Regions from separate parts of the Homo sapiens genome. Here all the other regions are linked to region 1. The links come from fine-mapping of genetic effects on gene expression. A gene starts in region 1. Each other region holds a variant in brackets. All regions are shown on one strand. Distances are between the middles of the regions.

Evidence for each region. PIP is the estimated chance that this variant, and not a neighbour inherited with it, causes the effect.
Region 2: its variant is fine-mapped to the expression of PDGFC in whole blood (TOPMed, PIP 0.95).
Region 3: its variant is fine-mapped to the expression of PDGFC in whole blood (TOPMed, PIP 0.96).
Region 4: its variant is fine-mapped to the expression of PDGFC in blood mononuclear cells (TOPMed, PIP 0.92).
Region 5: its variant is fine-mapped to the expression of PDGFC in whole blood (INTERVAL, PIP above 0.99).

The regions. Positions count from the first base shown.
Region 1 is chr4:156,969,473-156,974,581 of GRCh38, forward strand. PDGFC (platelet derived growth factor C) reads right to left here and starts at 2,327. Exons shown (of 6, transcript NM_016205.3): 1 at 1,314-2,327. The coding sequence starts at 1,431. RefSeq lists an enhancer at 2,114-2,614.
Region 2 is chr4:156,772,625-156,777,733 of GRCh38, forward strand. It overlaps PDGFC (platelet derived growth factor C), which reads right to left. Exons shown (of 6, transcript NM_016205.3): 4 at 62-269. Among named protein-coding and RNA genes, the nearest start is that of LINC02272, 130 kb to the left of the region's middle. The variant C/T (reference allele first, on the strand shown) is at 2,860.
Region 3 is chr4:156,904,614-156,909,722 of GRCh38, forward strand. All of the region lies in intron 1 of PDGFC (platelet derived growth factor C), which reads right to left. Among named protein-coding and RNA genes, the nearest start is that of PDGFC, 65 kb to the right of the region's middle. The variant G/A (reference allele first, on the strand shown) is at 3,012.
Region 4 is chr4:156,781,186-156,786,294 of GRCh38, forward strand. The region is part of intron 3 of PDGFC (platelet derived growth factor C); the gene reads right to left. Among named protein-coding and RNA genes, the nearest start is that of LINC02272, 140 kb to the left of the region's middle. The variant A/G (reference allele first, on the strand shown) is at 3,214.
Region 5 is chr4:156,934,007-156,939,115 of GRCh38, forward strand. All of the region lies in intron 1 of PDGFC (platelet derived growth factor C), which reads right to left. Among named protein-coding and RNA genes, the nearest start is that of PDGFC, 35 kb to the right of the region's middle. The variant C/G (reference allele first, on the strand shown) is at 2,035.

The DNA.
Region 1 (5,109 bases):
CAACAGCAAATACAAATAACGTTTGCAAAAGTCGGCAGAATCCTTATTTTATCTACTTTTATACCCTAAAACTTTCTGTGCTTTCTTAAACATGAACACTTCATAGAGTTTAAATTCAAAGTTGAAGTCTTGAAACACCCCAATATGAAAAGGAAAAAAAATCACTCTGACTTAAAACTATAGCACATCCTATCTTAATTTTGTAGGTATGCCACTTGTGTTCATTTTGCATGGTTAATCAAGTGACAGAATCCTTGCATTCTGAATAGATGATATACAAAGCAGTAAAAACATGTATATTCCTTTTCAAATTACAGTAAGAGCCACCATTTGTAAACAGGGCGTTAAATATTCCAATTTTAGACAGCCTAACATGAACATTGTGGTTTCATGTGCAGTATAAAATTTCTATTTACAAAGTATTCTCAAAAATGACTTCATAATGGTAGATGAAGAGAAAAAGAGTTTAGAAATTGAATGATGTAAATCATATGGGTTCAGAGGCTAAGCAAATTACACACCCTGAAGCTGCCCTGGCTTTATGAAAGGAGCCTTTCTCCAGCTCTGTGCAATCCCAGCCCAAGGGAACTTGCATCTGAGAGTTTTCTAAACATTTCAGGTACACTTGAAAGCTGAAAGTAATTCTCATTTCCTATGCAGGATTAAGTCGTTTCCAGCACACACAAAATAGCAGTCATTCACCAACACATACAAAAACACACCACCAGAAAGGTAAGGACTTCAGAGTACAAAGGCAAGTTTAAAAAACAAAAACTAGGGAGCAAGAGAAATACACTTTTTAATTCCTCTAAAAACGACCACACAGCCTCTTGACCTCTATATTTCCTATCTACTCATTGATTAATTGATGACTTCGACCTAGAGTGCTTCAATTAATGCGGCTGATATATTTCCTGACCGACCCCCCTCGCCCTCCCCAAATCTGAGTAAAGTCAAACATGCCAAGGCTCATTCATTTTGGATTCGTTTTTAGAGGCAGTTCTTGAACTTCTAACTTTAGCAATGAGCGAACCTGCAATGTGCATTTGAAATGACGTTCACAATCGCTCCCAGAATGTCCTCACTCAGCAGTGGCACTCACGTTGCCCTCTTGGAGCTTTGTGGCAGCTCCCGAAGTTGCAAACTACACTTAACCTTTAACAGTCCATGCCAATGAACGCAGCGCACATTTGCATGTAATGAGAGACCAAAGATACCTTCACAGTCTGGTATATATCACATACCAACGCACAATGCCAACGTTAACACACACAGCGAGAAACAAGCAGGGGGAGAATGGGGGAAAGACTCACCGTTCTGTTCCTTGTTGCTGGAAAACTGGAATTTACTACTCAGGTTGGATTCCGCCTGAGTCCCCTGTCTCTGGCCGGCCAGGGCAGATGTCAGCAGGAGAAGCCCGAAGAGGCTCATTTGGCTGACTGGGGTGAGAGCTCACTCACGGCGGGCACTTTGGAAGCAGCGACTCCCGAGTCTCTTTCACCACCGCCAGGGGAAGGCTGCACTGGGGTGGAAGCGCCGAGCCTGCTCTGGCAGCAGAGAATCGCAGGGTAGTTTCCACATAATCCCATCCAAAACTTTTTCCTAGAGCCCTCTTCTGTGTCTCCAGTTTTTGAAAAGGATCAAAGCAAAACCTGGACCTGAACCAGTTTCCCAAGGTTTAAACAAATCCTGAGCTGTGGCGAAGTGGTGGGGGTGGGGGTGAAGGCGAGGGAGGAATGAGGGGGTGGGGACGCGGGGGAGCGGCGAGAAGTCCCCAGCAAGTTGCTGGGAGCACCTGTCAGTTCGGGGGACAGGACAGAGGCGAAAACTCAAGGGTTGCCCGCAGCCAGACTGGAAGCCAAGTCGGCGGCGAGCAGTTTCTGATCAATAACAAAGCTGCCAATAGATGCGGCTCTCCGGGCGCCCCTCTCCCCCGCCCCACCCCCCACCCCCGAAGGGGGAGGGGGAAGAAACAAGGCGAGGGCGCCGCGGCGGGTCCCACGGGCCGGGGCGCCGGAGCGGGGCCGGGGGGCTCCGGGCCGACGGCGGCCCGGGCGCAGGCGGAGAGAGGCCGCGGGGCTCCCGCTCCTCAGCCCGGAGCGCAGTTGGCCCCGGGTTCGGAGCGCCGCAGCACGGATTCCGGCACCTGGCTTGAGTTTTCCGCGACCAAAGTTCACCTTGTTCGGGCTCGTCCCCCGCTCCTCAAAGCCTGGGGCAATTCGGCCGCTCGGGGTCACCGCGGGGCTCCGGTTGTTCCCCGTCCCCTCCCCCCACGCCTCGGGCTCCGCGCTAACCTCGGGGCTACGCGCGGCGTCTCCGCACGGGGTGAAGAGGGAAGGCCGGGGCGGCCGGGAGGATCCGGCTTGTCCCCTCCCCTTCTCTACCTTCCCCCCGCCGGGCGGCAGACAGGAGGTGGGGGCCGTGGGCCGAGCCCGGGCGGAGCGCGCGCCTGGCGAGCGGGGGCGGCTCAGCGGCTCTCCCGCAGGCGGCCGATGGGGCGGGCGGGGGTCAGCGCCTCTGGGAGGGGCAGCCCTGGGACGCGTCCGCGCGAGCGGGCTTGGCCGCCCACTGGCTGTCAACAGGTGCTGCGCAGACAGGGGGTGCTGCGGGACTCGCTGTGGGCAAGACCCCGGTGGCCCAGGAGAGGAACGCGGCCAAGGCGGCCCCTGCTTTCCCTTCCACGGAACACCTCTAACCCCAAATACAGAGCACGATGGGTGGTGAAGGGTGCTGCAGAAGTAAGTGGGAAAGAACTTCCTGCAGCTCTCCTTCTCCCGCCCCCTGTCGCCTGACTTGTCATTAGTTTCCAGGAGGGCTCCCCACTCCCTAAGGTCTTTGCTAGGACCCTTGGCCAGAGTTTCAGAACAGAAGGAAGAAGGGAAATGAATTCAAAGGCTTTCCTCCAATTTCCAGCTCCGTAAAGCAGGACAAATAAAGCAAAAGTAAAGGCAGCCAAAATAACATCCATTTAACAAGTACTATATTTACTGAATGCCTACTATGTCGGGCACTGTTTAGAGGTTGGAGCCGTAGCAGTGAAAACAGACAAAAGTCCCTGCCCTCGTGAAGCATACGTAGTAGTTGGGCAGCATTAAGCTAATAGCAAGCTCTTCTGAGAATGGTGTCTAAGGGACTCAGAATGATCCTGCAACCTTGGACTTTCCTACAATACAGCCTCTAACAAAACTAGGCTGCCCTGAACCCCTGGTGATAGAATTGTTTACATTTACACCAAAAAGGTCGAGAAAGAACTGAAATCTCTTGTGGCTTGTGTTCAGGCTGACTTGGAGAGAGAGGCCGATGCTTTAAGACCTAAAGTTCTCATGAGGTAGTCTGAAATGAAACACACATGCCAAGCAGGGCTTATGGTGGTTCCATGTCTGCTAAATATGTCTGTGACAGGATCCAACGTGCTTTCTTTGTGGAGAAGCAGAAAATCATTGTCAATGTGTTAAAGGCACAAGCAGAGAGTCAGAAAAGTTGAATTTTAAAATGAAGCTATTTTTGAGTAATAATCAAAATGAAAACAAGGAAGTGCCATGGCAGGCAAATCAGCAATATCACCCAACTTCTTGTGGAAAAAAAGTCAATGCAAACAATTCGACCATCAAGAACACTTGGGCTGGAACAGAAAACCAAAATAGCAATGTCCCTGAAACTAAGGAGTGGCATTTGGGCAAGAACATATTCTTACTGGACCAAACCAGGGGCTGATCCTTCTTCAGTGGTGAGGAAAATGCCAAGCCCTCTTCTTATATGCGAACACCAACTGGGGCCAACCAACCAGACCTTTCTGCTTGGAATATCCTAGTCTTCTTGTTTTTCCCTTTTAGAAACCTTTGAAAACTTCACCCATCTGTCTCATTCTTGAAAATTTCACCCGCCTGTCTCATTCATTCATTCTTATCCCTTTACCACTTCTATCTACAGAGTACTAAATATACACTAAAGGCAAATAAGGCCTGATCTTTGACTTTAAGGCATTTACAGTTTAGTGGACAGAAGGTTTTTTATCAAGTATGGTATTTTATTCGAGTTAGCAGCTCCACAACACCAGTGTGACTCCATATTTGCATAATGTGTTCCAAAAATATTTTGTAAATTTGTGAGGGTGAAGGGTTATTCCCAATTTTAATAACATAATGGGACTTAAATAAAGGGCATGCCTTATGAATCCATTGTAATCTATTTTTCATAAAATTCATTATTCTCCAGTTTTTCTAATTTTGTAAGTTTAGTTTTCTAATCAGCACTTTTCTAAATGAAATTGTTATATGTCCATATAGTTGAGTTTCCTGACCACCCACATAGAGGTGGGGTGTGTGTGTGTGTGTGTGTGTGTGTGTGTGTGTGTGTGTCTGCAAATGTAATCCATTTGCTCTCAGGAGATTGGAAGGGTGATGACTACTCTTTATTTTGTATCATTTCATATTGGCTAGAATATTGCTTGGCACAGGGGGATAATAAATAAACACTCTTGACTGACTGACAGGTTTCTTTATTGGAGTCACTTACATTCTCCCTGGAATTTCAGTGCGATAGTTGTATTTGAAAAGTTACAGATGATCTAGAATAATACTCTACCTCTGCGTTTCACCTCATCCATATTCTACAGATTGATTTGACAATCGCCTTATAAATAAAGTCAGCCAGGTGTTCCTGAATGACCCCTAGACAAAATCACATCCACATTGGCCAATTTCCTTTCAATGTACTTGCATTGTCATTTCTTGAACTGCTCTTGCCCTTGACGTAGTTGATTCTTTTAACACATTATCCTCTGCCTGTCTTCCTGCTCTATTTTGCTTGTTAACCTTTTCTAGAAAAATGAAATCTTTGCATTGAAAGTAAATTTTATATAATCCAGAGTCTGTGCAATTACTAAACAATATATTTTAAATGAATATGGCTTTGTTTTGGCCAAAGGCATTTTCCTTGATGAAAGGCATCTGTTCCGCCAACCAAGAGAAAATAATTTCAGACATTCTTTGTGGTTTTCATGTTTTCTTAAACCTTAAGAAGGAGTGCCCATTGCTGCTGCATGCATGAAGAGTATTACCACAAATTCTTACTAAAGAATACACTTGGTGGTTAACAATGATAATTTGG
Region 2 (5,109 bases), 200 kb before region 1:
AATCTGAAACATTAGCTGTTAAGAAAATTAAATGAGGTTCTAATCTGAAGAGGGAGCTTACCTCTGGATTTTCTTCCAAAAACAAAAGCCTTGCCAAGAAGTTGCCAAGTTGGCCTATATAGATCTTCTAAGTCCAACTGCCATCTCTCTGGTTCAAGATATCGAATAAGGTCTTCCAAGGTACTAAAGGCAGTTATAGCATTATTAAGCAGGTCCAGTGGCAAAGCTGAAGGGGGTAGCACTGAAGGACTCACAGCTTCTGTGAATTGCTGAAAGTAAAATGAATCCTGTGTTAACTGTTTTAAAAACGACAATGTATTCCTTCTGGACATATGCAAGAAATTATAAAGACTGAGGCTGGAAATATGTGTGAAGGGAAATTGTATTGAATCCAATTAGAAATAACTACTCTGCAAAGACTTCATGAAGATGAACTCTGATAGATTTCCTGTAAAATCAATGAGAAAGACATTAATTTTCATTACCACCAACCGTGAGGGATATGGATATCTTTTGGTCATATAAAAGAATTAAAAATATCTTCATGGTTCAATTACAAACTTAGAATGAAAACTATAATACAGTTTACCAAATTTTCCTTTTCTTTTCCACTTTTCATTTTCCTTAATCTGAAAAATTACCTGGTAGTTATGCAAATTAGTGTCACATAAATTAAAAATGGAATAAGAAATAATTAACCCAAAAGATCTAGAACAAAATAGTTAGAAATCATTTGACATTAAAGAACTTATTAATCAAGATAGAAAATATCTAAATCATAAAAGATCAGCTTAATAAATTGCCTACAATATATTTTTAATATAAAATGCCTAATAAACAAGATTAAGAGATCGGAGGGACACTGGAGAACACACTGACAAACTATGTGACTGTCATAAGATTAGTATCCAGAATATACAAAAATAAAGACAAATGCAATGGAAGAAAAATGGGCATATTACAGATAAAAAGCTTGAATGGTCAATAAACATATGAAAATATGCTGAACTTCATTATCAGAGAAATCCAAAGAGAGATATTATTTCACATACGAAAAAAGGATACTTTTTCACACAGATGAGATGGGCAAGAATTTTAAAAAGGATTACTGAGGATGTGATTAAATTGGAACTCCTCTGCTCTGCCTGCAGAAGTTAGTGTACGTAGGCACAACACTTTAGCTGATGTAACTGATAAGCACTGAATATTCTTTCACTTATGCACATGGAAATATGTTCAATGATTAGAAAGACTGGAAGCAATCTAAATGCCCACATATAGGAAAACACTAACACATCGGCTCTTCCTTTTCATTCTCATTACTTCCATCCTGGGCTCCATACTAAAAACATGTACTATAAATAGCAGCTTCTAACCTTATCTCCTTACCTTTAATCATTTTTCTCTCCTTTTGTTCTATGCTGCATAATCCTGGGTTAATCTACTAAATAAGATATTACTGATCCTATGATGAATTTGGACAAATGCCTATGTGATTTCTCATCTGGAGGATAAAATCCAAATTCCTTACACAGCATTCAGAGCCCTCAAAAACTGACCTCTGCTCACCTTCCACTCTAATCTGCTACTCATCAGAGACATGCATATTTTGTTCCAATCAGTCTAGTCTCTTCACTGACTACTGCACATATAATATCATCTCAGACTTTGTAACTTATGCTAAATCTGTCCCCATACCTGACATGCAAAAACTCTCCCCCCGTTGATCCACATCATAAATCTTTACCATTACAATGACCTTTTCAAAAATCCAATTCATCCATGAAACCTGGCACAACAGGGTCATCACTGTCCCACAGCCCTCTGTGGGCTGCTCTGTGAGCACTTGGCTTGAAGAGCAGAAGCTGCCCAGTAAACTAGGAAAAGGAGCACCTTTCCTCTGGACAGGCACAACCCTCGTGGGGCTCCTGGCTTTGTGGGTGTCCCGCTGCCCACAGGGGAACATTCTTACAGGGTATAATCGGCAGAAATGAACGTGGCAGCCTTGGGCCAACAATGATTTCATCCTTTTTTTTTTTTTTTTTTTAACAAAAGTTTATTGAGTAACTACAGTGTTCCAGGGCCTGTGTGTGCATTATGAGAAAAGCACAGTGGAATGACAATGTCTGGCCTCCTTCCTTGCCTGGATTACTCACATGTACTTTCCAAGTCTCCACTCAGCTGTTACTCCTTTCATCTTTTTGTTTTTTAAATAAGTTTTATTTTGTATATCTGAGGTTTATGACATGATGTTACAGAATAAACAAAGATACGCAAAGATACATGGAAAATGTGTAAGTACATATATATACAGTACAATGGTTACTATTAAAGACTTAATTTCAATAATGTCAAGGATCTGGCTAAAATATTAGGACTAAGATATTTTCTAATTATTTTATGATATTTTTGCTCTACCCATTAGTCTGTTAAACTTTGAGAGTTTATTACCCTAATATGTTTTTATTACCCAGTGTTTTCTATAATTGTCCAAGGAACACAAAATTGCTTTGACAGAACTATGACTGAAAACTCTATTATAGATATAAACATTGATCTAAAAACGGTTTTAATTTTAATTTAGCTAATTAAGCTACTATTGATTAAATTTATGGTGTAAAAAGTTAACGCAAATTTTTGCATATTTCAAAAATATAAGCCTATATATGTATACAAATGTTTTATAAAGTAAAAATTAAGGGGTCAATAATAGTCAAAGAATCAGTATTATTACAAATGGAAAGTTTCAAAATCTGTACAGATAAAATAAGTGGTTGCTAGCAAGTTAATACAAAAAGTATACATTATTTATTAAATTGTCAGGGTGCAGATGTATATTTTAAGCATAAAATATAATTG[C/T]TATGTAGGGTAATTTCAATTAGACTGTAATCCAAGAATGATTTGGCTTATTTTGCTTCCAGTCTGTTGGAGACTCTCTGAATAAAGCATTTCTTTTGAAGCAATACAAAGTTCTAACTGAAATTAATATTGCTGAGATGCAGTCCAAAATATTAACACAAAAGAAGGCAAAACAAGATAAGCCTGTAATAATGGGCAAACAAAAGATGCACACCTTAGGTCCAGTGAAGTATCTGCAATCTGCATACCCATCCCTTCAAATGTGAAAGGTTGGGAGAAAAGCATCTTCTGTTACTGTATGTATAGATCAGTTGGTGTTACAAATCTCTAAGCTTCTAAATATTTAAATTAAAATTTGATAAATTTAGAAAGACAACTCTTTCCCCACCACACCCCACACACAGTGGTCCCCACCCAGAAAACAGGAAAGAAGAATGAACATAAGTTCCCAGGATTCAAAGAATCAATCCCTGGACAGAACAGGGGAAGTGGTGCTTCTATTTAAGGGCCTTCTCATGACTGTCCCTCCACCCACTGGTTCAAGAAAGAGCCGAGTTGTTCAGTTTCAAAGTTCTGCTTTTCTAAGTTGTTTAAAGGGACTCTCAGAGAGAAAGGGGGGAGCAATGAAAAAAAGAAGTTACAGAAAAAAAAATGTCTTTGAATTTTTAAGTTTTACTTTTCTCTCTAACAAAGTAACACTGTTCATTACAGACTAATAGCATTTTCTCCCATAATTAGTATCTAGAAAATTCTAACAATACTTTTGATATTTAAAAACACTTATGATTGGGCTGTTAAACTGGTTAGAATATGCAAAATACGCCTTGACTTGGATTTTCACATTTCCTGTTTATGTCTTTTATTCTTCATAAAAATATGATGGTGTACTTTTAAGCTATAGGTTGTGCTAAGACAATTTAGTGGATAGCAATGGACACAAACCGGAAGCAGAGTTTCTTGGTGTTCTGCAATGTAGACAACTAAACCAAAACCCTTATTCAGCCAGAGAAAAGCTTCTGTGTTATCACCTGCAGGGCAGTAATGACAAGCTTGGTGAGGGTGTGGCCCTAGCCTAGACCCTTTTAGGCCTATTACTTTGTAAGGACAGGTTGTCAAAGAGCAGAAAAGCATCTACAATCTATGTGATGAAGTGTCCTGCCAAAGAGTACATTTCTAAGATGTCAGCTCCATGAGATAAGGATCCTATGCAAAATCGGGTCTTTAAAATTCTCTGATGAAAGTTACTCTGAATGACAACATGATAATGAGAGAACTACGATCAGGAGTTAAGGAACTGGACTCTAAATCCCAGAGATACTCACATGTAGGGAAGAGAGTTTGACTAAACTGCATAATCAATCTGTGCCTCAGTTTCCTCCACTACAAAATATGGTAGCTATATTCAATGACCTTCAAGTTTCTTGCCAGCTTTTACATGTAAAAATTCTACTTAATTATCAGATACAAGAGGGTCCAATACAGCTTCAGCAAAATTATCTTGAGAGCTTCAAAAATATAATAAACAACTTAGTAAGTCTATAATGGGACTGAACTCTATTTTTTTTTTCTTTTAACTCTCCTTGTTGTTTTAGCAGATGAGTGAGTTTTGGGAAACACTGCCCTGTGGTACAACTGTGGGATAATTCTACATTTACATATATATATAAAATTTTGAGAGTACATGAAGTTTACCCTGCTCTTTAAGACATCAAATATCCTAGAAAGGCATGTCTGGCTTATAAATAGAAGCAGTATGGTCCTAAAAATCTGAAGGAAACAAGTCCGTGCTTAGAAAACTGATACCAAAAATGTTTAAATGAATATAGACACACGTTGTATTATGGGCTGAATTAGAGTTCACTCAAAATTTCTATTCTACTAAAGTCCTACTCACAGTATCTCAGAATGCCTGTATTTGGAGACAGGGTCTTTAAAGAGATCAGTAAAATAAGGTAACTAGGGTGGACCCTAATCTAACATGATTGGTGTTCTTATAGTAAGAGAACATTTTAACATAGACATAGTAGAGAGGGAAGACCATCTGAAGACACAGGAAGAAAATGAACATCTACAAGTATAGGAGAGAGGTGTCAGAAGAAACCAAACCTACTGACACCCTGATCTCAATTTCTAGCAACCAAAATTTTGAGAAAACAAGTTTCCATTGTTTAAGGCACCACTGTTTAAGTCTGTGGTATTTTGTTAAGGCAGCCCTAGAATGCTAATACATGCCATCAACTTCTCCACTTA
Region 3 (5,109 bases), 65 kb before region 1:
GAATTTCACCATCAAGTGTATATTTGTGCTTGTGTATTAGTTGTTCCAACTAGCTACTCTCACCTGAAGCTCAAATGTACCTCCTCAGCAAATCCTTCCCAGGCTGGTAAAATAGTACCTGCCAACAGGTGCATTTAGGTTCACTAACCCTTTATTCTTGCTTTATTTTTGTTTTTGGCACTCATTACCAACTGACATATCTACACTTAAATGTTTACTGATTGCCTATCCCCACTGCAAAGTAAGGCTCAGTGACAGCAGAGAATTGATATGTTGTTTGCTGCTGAATTGCTGGCATATAATATTTGCCCAATAAATATTTGCTCAATACAAGCACATGTTAAAAATAAAATTACCTGGAGATCATCTCTTAAAAAGAAAATTATCTTTTGAGCTGATGGAACACTTGCTTAAATTCCTGTATCTTAGCATTACACTGGACACTATGGGATTGGTAAAACCAGATTCTGTGCCTCTTGCACATAAGGGAAATACAAAAATGATCAAGAAGCTGGAGCTGGGATCATCTTGAGATAGGCTTAGATTGAGAAATAAATACTAATTTCAAATATAACCTTCAAGCTCTATTGAATGAATTAATCATAATTCCTTAGCAAATAAAAGTTTGGCAATCTGAGAGCACCTACTGAATAATGACACCATATTTTGAATGTCCCTTATATGACAGACACTGTTTTTGATGTTTTATATTCATGACTTTACTCAATTCTCAAAAAAAGCCTCATAGTGACCATAATATCACTTTTGTATTATATGTGCCAATTTATAATCATTTATGTTTATTTTTTTCTCAAAGATGAGATAGTTGCCCATAATGTGCAATGCGTAAACTGAAATCATGACTCAAGGAGATTAATAAAGTTAACCCAAATAACACAGAGTTTGAAGTGTTAGAGCCAGGATGCATACCCAAGCCTGTGATTTCAAAGCTTCACATTCTGTCTAAAATACATTTCTGATCAACATTTTCCAAACTATCAAGCAGTTCAACCTGGAGTAGAAAATATGTCTCTAGTTCTCTCTCCTGTCAACCATTCAGAATATCTGCATCTAATCACTGCTTCATTCTCAAAGAAACACTATTTGCCCAGATACCAAAGTAAGTCTATCTAGAGTTTGAAGGGCTCAGCTTTATTTTAATTACATTAGAAAGATTATGCTGTGTTACCCAAGGGCTTACATCTACACGCAAGACCTACATTCTAGATCTGAAACAATAAAGCAACATAATTGCCATGTACTATATCACATTTAATATACTGTAGATACATCACCTCAAAAATACATCCTAGCTCTGCTTACAAGCCTGTTATGTAAAGTGTCAGTGACCAAAAGCAACAGATGAAACCCAGTATTAAAAGATGCTTCATCAGATACTTGTGTAAGTATACACAGAGATATACATTTATAATCTATACATATGCATGTTTATGTATATATGTTATAGATGACATATAACACACATTTTACATACTAGCACTTCTGAAGTTATCAGAAATTTTCAAAACAAGTAAGAATATTTTAAAAACAAGAATATTTCAGAAGTTCGGTGTACCCAAACAATTAAATACAAATCACTTAAAAATACTGCTTGCTCAGGTTTCTTAATGTCATAAATTTTGAATACGACAAATTTAAGCTTTCTCTGCCCTTTTTTCCATTTCAATTATATCCATTGTTAAATATAGTAAATTCAATTTCTATTCCATTGTTTAAAATTCTTGAATGTTTATGGCTCATGGTGAGGAGTGGTTTGGCTTATTCTTTTATGTAGTGTAAAGTAGGAATAATCACTTTCACCCTTTGATTTACTATATTTTTATAATCACTTGTAAAACGTGATACAATGGGATGTAAAACTATAATTTTAAGAGTAGACAGATGAGTAATAGGAGTTGACTTCCTGGTTTTTCACTACATTGTAATTAAGAATTCCTGGAAGGTAGCTTAGGGGGACAGTTTTAAAAAAGATTTATGATGTACTTTTAAAAATCTTGAGCACGGACAAAGGTTTATCTTTGAAGTTTTGGGATATAATTACAGCATAAATAGACTTCTGGTTCATATTGCTCTTACAAGAGCATTTCCTCTTTGCAGACTTAGGTTTCTGGCTACTCTAGTCATTGTTCTGAGGGAGTCACAACAAAAATTAATAAAAGTTAATCATACGTTTCCCTTAATTTCTAGAATAATATCTGATATTCTTTAATTTTACACTCACTTCCAAAGAAAGCCTCACTGGTAATAGAAGGCTGGCTTATGCTGGGATCTCAGCTCTGCCCCTTCCATTTCACCTTGCATGGATACACTGATGAACTAACATGGATGCAGCCAAAACATGTTTTATAACAGAAATTAAGTCTTGCAGGAAGAAAATGTACTTTTGTCTAATAAACAAATAACAATCTACTGTTTATGAAATCTGTTTATTTTACTCAGAACATGTAAATACTTGGAGCCCAGTATCTTAGATTAGGAGAATATACCACCACCATGACTTAAAAATAAAAATGGACCAAAAAGAGATTACTGATAGACTTTTAAAGAGATGTTTAAAATGCATGCCTTGTTAAGTGACACCTGTCTTTCACATCTTTGTAATGTAAAAAATAAAACCACTGTTTTTATACATGTTGATTTTTAGCCAGATTTTCTTACATTAGCACCTAATTCTAATCATAAAACACACATTTGCTAACAAATGAGTGAGATTACATAATATAAAATGCATGCCAAAAATGCAAACAAAAGAAAATCCAAGGATACAAAGAGTTTACTTTAGCAATCTACACCTGGAGAAAGGGAACATAAAGGTTTAAGGGTTTCATCTCTTAAGATGAATGAGATAAAGATTGTTTCACCTGAATTTGCATCTTTCAATTCACCTCAATGTCTAGAGACATTGAGGGCCCCCCACTCACTAGTCCTCATGGTTGAAAAGAATCTTCGAGGGAGTTGGGACCTTCAGACTTGTGTGTCAAATCTCAGTC[G/A]GTGGGTGGAGCTCTTGCCAGGCCTCTGGGTGTGGGCATCTCAAGATGGATGTGGTGGTTACCTATAAGCAGGCATGTGCTAGGCATTCCTGGCTGTGACTGGGGGTCCTTCACCTGGGATGAAGTGGCCCTAACCTCTTGGATTGAGCCTCCATGCTGGCTAGGGCTTGTGTCCTGAAGCAGATGCCCCCACACTCCAGGTCACCAAACATGTCCAGTCCTTCCTACTGTCTCCTCCAGTGTTATATAAAAGCAGCAGCTTGGCTGGGTACAGTGGCTCACATCTATAATCCCAGCACTTTGGGAGGCCAAGGCAGGAGGATCACAAGATCAGGAGTTAAAGACCAGCCTGGCCAATATGGTGAAACCCCGTCTCTACTAAAAATACAAAAATTAGCTGGGCATGGCGGCATGCACCTTAGTCACAGTTACTTGGGAGGCTGAGGTAGGAGAATCACTTGAACCCAGGAAGCGGAGGTTGCAGTGAGCCGAGATCGTGCCACTGCACTCCAGCCTGGGCGACAGAGTGAGACTCCATTCCAAAAAAGAAAAAAGCAGCAGCTTTCCTTTATATCTCATTTAACAAAACAAAGCTTAGCTTTAAGGCAATAATAAAATATTAATAGATCAATAATAAAATATTAAGAGATTTATGATGCATTATCACATTATTCTAATTACCTAGAGTAGTTGGTGTCAATATATAATACTTTGTGAAAGGCAATTTACTAGATAATTTACCTCCTTTATTTATGCTCATTTGTGTAAATAAATAAATAAATATTTATTTCAATCTAGAAATGCCAAATTAGAATTAGAATATTTATATAAATGATAATAGCTGCCAATTAGTAAAACAGAAGTATGGCATTTTTTCTTATTCTAAGTAATACAAAGAACAAACTTGGCACTAGGAAATTGTCATCACAACATTGGACAAAATAACCTATGTGGCAAAATGTTAGTAGAACTGTGATGATATCTTACCTCTGCTTCTGCAAACACCCAATCCTTTCAATGACCTCTTTCCCATCCAGTAATTCTGTGTTGACTTCTGGCTACCTAAACCTACCATACATTTAATTATTCCCATCCAAGCCAGTTATCTCTTAATATGACTTGTGCTTGAAATTATAGTTCAATAGACTTATGTAACAATCAGACAAGTGCAAGAGTATTATTCATAATACCCAAAAAGTTGGAAATAATCCAATGTCCAACTAATGAATGGTTGAACACAATGTGGCATATGTATACAAGAAACTATTATTCAGCCATAAAAAGGAAGAAAACACAGACATATGCCACAAATGATGAACTTGGAAAACATTATGGTAAGGGAAAGGAGAAGTCACAAAAGACCACACATATACAATTTCATGTTTGTAAAACGTACAGAATAGGTAATTTCTACAAAGTAAATCAGTATTTGCTTAGAGAATAAGGCATATGGGGGAATAAATACCAGCATTTGAGAGAATAAGGAGGTGACAGCTAACGAGTATTACTTTTTGAGATAATGAAAATATTCTGAGTTTGAGAAGAGAAAAATATTCTAAAGTTGCACAACTGTGAGTATTCTAAAAACAATGTAATTGGATACTTTAAATGGGTAATTTTATGGTATGTGAATTATATCTCAATAAAGCTATTATTCAGACAAGAAATTCCTAAAATAAAGTGAAATTTGCTTTTTATAAAAAGCCATTCCACAAGTTCATCTACCTAAACTTCTCTAAAGTTGGGACAAACAGAATTCTCTCTTAGCATTGCAAATATTATGGCCAGAAAATAAACTTCAGAGGAGAAAGTAACCAAACAAGTGAGCCAGAAATACAAACACATTTGGGAGAGTGTAATTTACATCTGTATAATTATAAGTACATGTCACTCAGTGAACTACTACTATATTTTCCTGGAAAACTGTTTATGAAACAAAGGTAAATAGGAAAGATATAAAACATTAGATATAATATGATCTCATGTATACACACATGTATTTCCACAAATATCCACATACAAATACATTCCAATGTTAACAGTGGGTTTTCTCTGAACAATAGAATTATCACTGATTTTCTTTTACTGTGTCCTTGAC
Region 4 (5,109 bases), 190 kb before region 1:
TTCTGTGCTACACTCCATATCCCACATCAAGTTATCTTGGCTCAATCTTCATACTATGTCTGGAATCTGACCATTTTCCCTACTTCCATTGCTGCCACTTTACAATTCAGGCCAACATGTGAAACAGTCTTCTAACTGGTCTCCCTGTTAAACAATGCCTTTGCCATTGTTGTCTGAATTAAATAACAGAAATTTACACATTCTACAACAAATGGTCAATAGAGTATTAGTAAAAATACCAATTACTTTTCTAGAAAAATATCCTGCTTTTAAATTTCAAACTTAAAAAATGGCCTTTATTTTAAACATTCTATAGATTATTCACAGTGGAACTCAATGGAAGGGCTTTGTACAGATTTCACAAGCCTCGGTTAATGCAGTATGCCTCCTGCAACCTGCCATTCATCCCTCCCAGGTACATTTTATCCTGTCAGAAGGCACTCACTAACTCTCCTACTGCTGACAATGCAAACAGTACTCTCTTCTTCAGGGTAGGGGAGGCATACCTACCAGCCATAGAAAATGGGGCGTTTGTCAAAATTACATGGTGAACACCTCATTTATGTGTGTGTCTGTAGGAACAGGTATTCAAAGGAGGGATGATTCCACCTACCTAGGAAAACTGGTATAAGGATTAAGCAAAATAGCATATTTTAAAAATTTAATAAACAATTCAGCACTATACATATTTAGGGATTATCATACACATTTTTATTATATATTTAATTACCCAAGTTGTACCAAGTTTAGCAAAGATAAATAATTATTTTAAAAAATATAGCTCATGATTGATGTTGGTCTGTGTTACATGGAGTGGCATGACCTCATTAGGCAGCGTTCAATGACATCTCCACCCAACATTCTTTCTAGACTGATGTGGCAAATCAGAGCTTGTCCAACCCTACAAGGAAAATTCTGAAACAGACTTCTTTCTCTTCTAAAACAGATTTATATTCAGTAGTTGTTCTGGAGGGAGAAATGGGCATTACACATCAGCAAATTAATCTTTATGGCTACGAATACCTCTGTGCTAAAGAACTTAAAAAATAAGCATAATGATACCCTTGGCTGCTCACTTATCCTATGTCGGTTTTCTGAATTCATATTCTTTGCCTATAAAATCTTTATATGAAATGAAACCAACAAAAAATCCTATGCAAAATGCAGGATTTCAACTCTGAGGCCCACCATGTCACTGGTATCTTAATTACAGTGTACGGTGTTACATTAAAAGAAACTTCTGTAAAGTAACTAGTTAGCATGCCGTTCCTATTTCAACAATGGAGAAAAATATAAATGATAATTATTTTGTGAAGTGTTTGGGCATTTTTTTTACATTTTTAAATCACTCTGTGACATCCCTATTCTGCCATAAAATCTTTAGTACTCATGCACAGATCTGAACACTTTCAAAAAATAAAAGCATAAACAGTTATATGTTCTTTGGTCATGTTTTTACATGTCGGTCACCACACTAAAATGAGATTGTGTCTCACGGTCAGAATTCTGGGCAGGTCAAAACGATCACCAGGGGCAACAGAGAACATAGAATATTTTTGTGAAAAGTTGGTACGGTCACCTCAAACACACCTGAAAAGGCTTCTTCTATTGATACAAGCAAGATATGGCTCTGAAAACAGGGTTAGATAAAAAGTTAAATCATTCAGTAGACTATATTATACTCCTGTCACGTGCTCACAACAAATGAAGAATATGAATAATATAGCCATTGTGAGGTTCGTATCTCTTGATGGAAAAACCTGTGTCCTTTAGGTAATGACTATAACGGAAGTAAAAACCCAAGTGCTGTGAGTGTGATTAATTCTGCCTAGAGAATTAAGGAGGTGATACAAAGAAGAGATCAAAGTTAATCTAGAGCTTAGAGAATTAGAAAGTAATTATTATATAGATTAGAAGGGAGAAGCACTTTAGATATTTACAAAGAAACTGAGTTGGAAAAAAATGGTGTTGGGTGAAGAAAAAGATGAAGACTGTGACAAAGCATTGCTATTAGGGGGAGAGTAGATGGTGGAAGGTGAGGCTGCAGGAATGAATTGGGGTCTGATTGGGAAGGCTTTGTGTGTGCCATGCTATGGAATCTGGATTTAATCACAAAGCAGTACAAGAGTCAAAAGAGATGTTAAGGAAGGTGGGATACATACAAGTTTAATTTTTCTGGCTTTCTACTTCTATTTTAGGTGAGGAGGTGCCTTGGGTTGGGAGAAGGGGGTGTGCAGACTCTGGTGGGAGCCATGAACAAGGCTTTGGCATCTGAACCTTTGCTCCTGATGTTGCCCTTTGTTAATAATAACTGCTTTTATTGCCTTGTCACATGGCTAATCACTACCCACTAATAAAGACTCAGCTTCTCCAGGAGGCTTCCACTAGTGAGACCTCTCTCTATATATACACGACTACCTCTAAGCTGGTCGACCTTTGTGATCCACCATTCTGTTCATATGTCTAGCACTACATCAAATTGAAATTGTTGTACGTGTCCCTCCTACTTGCCTCGAAGTTCTTTCATGGTGGGGCCAAATCTTGATGTCTTTTGGATATTTTGATCTCCAATAGTATTCAGGATCTGACAGAATATTAATGAAGTGCTAAAAAGAGTATGCTTTATGATCTGATTGATTACCACCATTGAGGAAAACAAATGAAAAGAAGGGTGGCAAAGTACATGACCATGGTAGAACCAACAGGATTGGTAGCTGGTGGGATGGGGAATCAGGGAGAGAAGAGATATGCTTAATTTTAAATGATTCTAGCTTCAGGGAATGCATTAACAGTGACATAACTATGTAATACAGGCAAAATTGGTAAGAAAGAAGGAAAAGTTCAGGTTGGGTCAATTTATAATAAGTGGAGGTGTATTGACACGCATATATCCAGCAGACAACTGCAAACATTTTTGTGGCATTAAATATAGAGGACTCACTTGGAATAGAGAAAGATAATCATTAACATATACAAATGTCAAATGTTAAAGCCATGAGCTAAGAGCACACATGAAAAGAAAAGAGGATAGAAGACAGGAAAATGGGATTTCCCCATACTTAGACCAATGGCCAAGGCACTGGATCAACCAGCACTGGTGTCTCAAAATAGATCAATCTAAGGGTCGGGAAGAGAGCCTGGAGGTCTTAGTGATTTTTCCTCCCAAGGAGAAGAGAGTTTTGAGGAGTAGAAGAGGGAGAATAACATCAAAGT[A/G]ATGGAAAGATCAACAAGAAAGAGGAGTAAAAGTAGGCCACTGTAGCTATTCCACAGGTGGTGTTCTGTGACCTTAGGAATAGAGAAGTTTCATCGAAGTAAGAAAGGAAGAAAGGGGGCCGTTAAAAAGCAGTGAAATGGAGAAAGCAAGTAGAACTTTTTCATTAAGTTTGGCAGGGAGAAAAAAATAAGAAAGAATCATAGATTTATGAGAAGAAAGATTAGAAAAAAGCTTAATATAATAAGTACAGAAATACGTGTATATTTGCAATTAGAAAAGAAGGCCAATGAATAAAAGAAATCAGAAGACAGAGGAGAGTTAATGTCAATTGTAGATCAAGACGGGGCAAAAATATTTTTCTCATGAACTGTAAAGAAGACTAAAATGTCAAAGTATTTCTGTAAGACAATTCAACAATATTTTCCACAAGCAGTCTTAAAAGTGTCCATTTTTTCAGATCCTGTAATTCCATATTCAGAATTTTTATCTTAAGGAAATAATCAGAAGTATAATCCAAGGATAGTCATTGTAGCATTATTAATAGAGAAAATTAAAAATAAAATTTAAAACAAATGTTCATAATTGGAAGGCTGTTAAATAAATGATTACACTTTATGTATGTACAGTGGTCCATTTTATTCTCAATAATTTTTAGTGTACATGAGAACAATGTAGAAACTTTGATCCCTAACAGCTCAGGGATATGATTGCCACTGTGATATAAACTATAAAGCAAACAGGATGATTCACATTCTGCATAGGCAGAGACTAAGGACACCCAGGCTAAGATCTTACTGTTCTGAATTTTTTTTTGAGACGGAGTCTCACTCTGTCATTCAGGCTGGTGTGTGGAGTACAGTGGCGCAATCTTGGCTCACTGCAACCTCTGCCTCCAGGGTTCAAGGGATTCTTCTGCCTCAGGCTGCCAAGTAGCTGTGATTACAGGGGTCCGCCACCACACCTGGCTAATTTTTGCACTTTGTATTTTGTATTTTTTAAAGATGGGGTTTCACCATGTTGGCCAGGCTAGTCTCGAGCTCCTGACCTCAGGTGATCTGCCAGCCTCAGCCTCCCAAAGTGCTGGGATTACGGATGTGAGCCACTGTGCCCGGCCCTAAGTTTAATAAACTTCTAAAAGTAGATCCATCAGTTCTCAATCTGATATGCAAGGAATCTACTGGGTGCACAACAGTCTGGAAAGGGAGCAGCCAGCATCAGATAAAGGGGTGACTGAACAGCATTGTCAGTACAGGTGAGAGATGACCGACTCTTCAAAGTGTAACATTCATGCAGTTACAAAAGGTAAAATTCTATCAACTAGGATCAACTTACGGGACTATTAAAATAATGCACATTTTTTTCCATGTAGAATCTAATGTCTACATTGGGCAGGGCTAGAATACTCAGGAGGTGCAAAGTCACAGTGAGATTTAATAAAGTTCTAGGTCAGTTGATCAATATCTTCCCACAAAGTTCAAGGTCAATTGAAAAAATATCTTCCTACATTCTTTTCTTTGCCTTGTTCTTTACCCTGCCCCTCTATTCTGTATCGCTTTGCCCTAAGTGTACAATGCTCTGAAATCATCTTTATTTCCCTAAAACTTTCATTGCTTCAGCTGATTTCAGATACGGTACTGTGAAACTAATCACCATTACCCTAATCAACATAATATGATCATTCATAACCACACTAATAGGCTCTTGATTATCTATCTTGTCACCATTTATGTAATATATATTCATTTGCAATAAATACATACTGAGCAACTAATACGAGCCAGACACTCTTCTAGGTGCTGAGGATCAAGCAGTGAACAAAAGAAGTAAATATCTCTGCCTTTATGTAATACATATTCTATTGGAGAAAAACAGACCATGCACAACATAAATAATGC
Region 5 (5,109 bases), 35 kb before region 1:
TAACACATGACTTTACAGAGAAAATATGTGTGTTAGATAAGCTTCCTTCAGGCATGAATTATAGTGCCTTGTGCTTAATGTTAATGAATCACCAATATACAGTCATGAGTCACTTAACAACTGGGATATATTCTGAGAAATGTGTCTTTAGGCGATTTTGTCATTGTGCTAACATCATAGAGCATGCTTAAACAAACCTAAATGGTATGGCCTATTGCACACGTAGGCTACGTAGTACAGCCTACTGCTCCCAGACTACAAACCTGTCAAGCATGTTATTGTACTGAAAACTGTAGACAATTGTAATACAACGGTAAGTATTATATATCTAAACATAGAAAAGGTACAGCAAAAATACAATATAAAAGATTTAAAATGGTACACCTGTATAGAGTTCCTACCATGAACAGAGTTTACAGGACCGGTAGTTGCTCTCAGTGAGTCAGTGAGTGAGTGGTGAGTGATTTTCAGGCCTAGCACATTACTGTACACTTTTGTAGAATTTATAAAGGCTAAATGCTTATGCTACACTAAATATATTTGTTAAATATTTTACTTTCTTACATAATATACTAGCCTTAGCTTACTGTAACTTTTTACTTTATAAACTTTTTAAATTTTTTAACTTGACTCTTTTGCAATAACATTTAGTTTAAAATACACATTGCACAACTACACAAAAGTATTTTCTTTCTTTATATCCATATTCTATGTGCTTGTTTCTAATTTTAAATTTTTTTTATTTTGTTTTACCTTTAAACTTTGTTAATGAAAAACAGAAGAGACAAACACACCCATTAGCCAAGGCCTTCACAGGATCAGGACCATCAATATCACTGTCTTCCACCTCTATATTTTATCCCACTGGAAGGTTTTCAGGGGCAATAATAGGCATGGACATGTCATCTCCTATGATAATAATGCCTTCTTCTGGAATCTGTCCTAAAAACATACCTGAGGCTTTCTTACAGTTAACGTTTTTTTGTTTTGTTTTGTTTGTTTGTTTTTCAGATGGAGTCTCGCTCTGTCCCCAGGATGGAGTGCAGTGGCATGATCTCGGCTCACTGCAACCTCTGCTTCCTGGGTTCAAGCGATTCTCTCCTTCCTCAGCCTCCCGAGTGGCTGGGACTACAGGCGTGCACCACCACGCCCAACTAATTTTTGTATTTTTCATACAGACGGGGTTTCACCATGTTGGCCAGGATGGTCTCGATCTCTTGACCTCATGACCTGCCCGCCTTGGCCTCCCTAAGTGCTGCCATTACAGGCGTGAGCCACCATGTCTGACTTACAGTTAACTTTTTAAATATGAGTAATAGGAATATACTCTAAAATAATAAATAGTATAGCAAATACAAAAATCAGTAACACAGTCATTCATTATCTTTATCAAGTATTATGCACTATACATAATGTTATGTCCTACACTTTTACAGGGCTGGCAGTGCAGGAGGTTTGTTTCCACCAGCATCACCACAAACATGTGAGTAATACACTGCACTACAACATTACAACAGCTACAACCTCACTAAGGGATAGGAATTTTTCAGCTCCATTAAAATCTGATGAGACCACTGTCATATATGTGGTCCATCATTGACCAAAACATGGTTATGCAGCACATGACTATATATTAAATAAGATGTCTTTATACAGAAACACACATAAAATAAGGTTTGTATTGATCAGCTGACGAATATGTTGTGACCAGGAACTCGCAGGAACCTAATCTTGTAAGAGCCATAGCAGCAACAGTTCATTATTCATTAATTTAGTGTTTGCAATGGCTTTACAGACCATCAATACCATGAAAAATGAGACTACACTGTATATGCTAGATCTTGTGTTAAACAACATGAATACAAAATTATACAAGGTCCCTGCCCTCAAGGAAATTAAAATGTCAAGTACACATTTTATAAAATCTATATACTGACTATTTAGGGGTCATAGACAGGGGAGGAAAAAACCTGACAATTGCTAGAACGAAAATACATGTGAAGTTGTAATTACAAATCAGTATCTTTCCTCTTC[C/G]TGTTATGGTCATTGGAGATTAATATTAAAATATAAATAAGCACTCTCTTTGGTTGGTGTCAGAAAATACTAAAAACACCTTGCTACTTGCTAGCTCTGTGACTTCCCATCACAGTTGGATCTGTCTTTTAGTGAAATCAGTATCCACCCAACGTCGTAATAGAATGAGTTTCAAAAAGTATCTTTCTTCAGGTACTATGAGGAGGACCTTGTTCCCCTAGAGAGTATTCAAACTTCAAACCTTGACTGCATCTCAAGAATGGATCAAAATTGGGAGAAATGGAAACTCTCAGAGGAGAATTTCTACCACATTTCAGGTCTCTCTCCCCCTTGGCCTCCACCTCTCAACTCATTCCTAACCAAAGGAGAGGGAAGAACTAATACAATTAGTTGGTTTAATAAATGATTACTTTGTCTTAAAAAATACAACAACAACAGTTTTTTACCCTTTCTCTGGAACCTACCAATCCCAGCACTCAGCTTTCTGTTCTTCTCCATGTATTTAGATCATGAGGTAGATGAAGAGTGTAGGATAGAAGAAACACTAGAGAAGAATCAGGAAAAGGCAATTGGAAAAAGAGGAAATATTTGAAAAGTCTTGCAAAGGAACTTGAATTTATCCAAACGCAAAGCAGAGCTGTGAAGAAATTTTAAAAGACTGACATGTCGGACACCATTGTTGATGGATGGGATGGAGTAGACGAATGGAAGAAGAATGACAAATTAGAGATTACTGCAGTAATCAGGAATACTATCGTATTGCCTTGAACTAAGCAGCAGAGGGGACTGAAAGGAATGCCTAAGGTATGTCAACGAAGCAGCAAAAACAGATCTTGGAAAACATTTGAAAATAGGAACGAAGAAGAGGGACTCAGGTTTCTGATGTGAACAATTTGATGAAAAATATTATGCTCTATGCAATGGAATTCATGACCAGAACCAAATTTAAGAGCTGAGAAATAAGATCAGTTTTGAACATGTCAAACTTGAAGCACTAAGGGAACATCCACGTAGACAGCACTGCACGCATATGGACAGATGAGTCTGAGTGAAAAAAGCAAGGTGTGTGCTGAAAAAAGAGATTTGAAATTATCAATAAATACATGGTTATTGAAGCCATAGTGATAGAAGGCATTTCTGAAGAAAAGGATATACTAAGAGAATGGATCAAGGATGCAATCTTGGAAACATCATCATTTAAAGCATTGATTCTTGTTTCTCAATAATTTGAACGCATAAAATTATGTCTAAAGCTGGAAAAAATCTTGTTATCTTTCCACCGCAAACCCAATATGAGGTATTTCTTCTGGAGACCACCACAATGAAACCCTAAGTGAAGATTCAAAGAAATTACTTGAATAATTAAAAATAAGAAAGGTGGTCAGGCACGGTGGCTCACTGGTAACCCCAGCAATTTGGGAGGCTGAGGAAGGCAAATGGCTTGAGCCCAGGAGTTCAAGACCAGCCTGGGCAAAATAGTGAAACCCCATCTCTACAAAGAATACAAAAAATTCATCTGGGCATGGTGGCAGTTTTTAGTCCCAGCTACTCAGGAGGCTTGAGGTGGGAGGATCACATGAGCCCCAGGAGGTTGGCGCTGCAGTGAGCTGTGATCGTGCTACTGCAACCTAACCTGGGCAACAAAACAAAACTTTTCTAAATAAATAAATAAGAAAGGCATATTCACCTATCTGAACATGGTGGAAACATATTTTCTAAAGTGCCTGAAATCTCTAAACTATTTCCTGTGTTTACACAATACAATACAACCCTAATATTGGTTGAAAGGCAAATGTATTTCAGTAGCAACTTGATTCATGGTGGAAAAAAAAATTACCTTAAGATAAAGTTCTTTAGAGAATAATGAAGAAATTACAGAGAAACAAAACCAGGGACTAAAAATTCTTCTCAATTTTAATAATGTGCTTAATATTGATACATTTACAACCTACTAAATTAATATATTAAATTTGTGTAGTATCAGGTTGGCAAAGATTGGGAGAATTATGCCAAATGAGGTGAAACAGTACTTTTACATACAGATTTCTTACGAAAGGACAAATTTTTACAATTTTAAGTTAGTTTGTTATATGAAAATACACACACACACACATACATAACATACTAGGAAAAAAGGTAAAATTTTGATCCAATCATTCAAGTTCTAGGAAGTCACTCTAATGAAAGAAATATAGAGATATGTAAAAGGTATGTAGATACCAAGGTATTCACTGTAGAGCAGATCCTAAGCGCTAAATAAAAAAATCCTAGAATCCAATCATAACGTGCTGATTAAATAAAACTTAAGCTGTGTAAACTTAAGTTAGAATCCATGAAGCAGTTAAGAACTGATGACATGACCAATGGCTCTTGATCAGAGATTCATGGTCCTGGGACCCATAAAACTTTATACATTTTCTTGCAGATACATTTTTTGAGGGAAGGAAATATTCCATAGATTTCTTTATAATATCAAATGATCTAAAACAGTGTAAGAACCATGGCAATAACAAGTCAATATTTATATTTAAAAAACTGACAAAACTCAGATTTTAAAAAGCATGTTTAATAACATACATATAAAATTTCATGTTTGTAAAAAATAAAGATATGAGTAAGTATTCATATGTAAAAAGTTATAAAAAGCTGTGTAAGAAAATATTAAAAGTGGTTATTTGCAAGTGAATTTTAGGCACTTTATTCAAAAGGAAAAATCTAAAAGTTATCTATGATCTGTATATTTAATACTTTAATGAACATACTAATATAATAGCACAACAACATTATAAATAATATAAGTAAACTATTATTAATATAAATACAATTTATTTTATATTGTTCAATCCTTAGAAAAATAATCTAAGTATTAAAATAGGTATAGTAATTTTAAATTTTAAAACCAAATTCACTTGGAGTAAAAACCACAATCCCATCAAATATCATAATTCCTATTAACAAGAGGTCAAAACCAGTACAGAATACAGCCCTCCTTGGGTCTGCAATTTGTGATTCAGTATTGTCCATGAATGCATCCAAACAATATAATGGCTTCTCTCTCAGCCTTAAGATGAATAA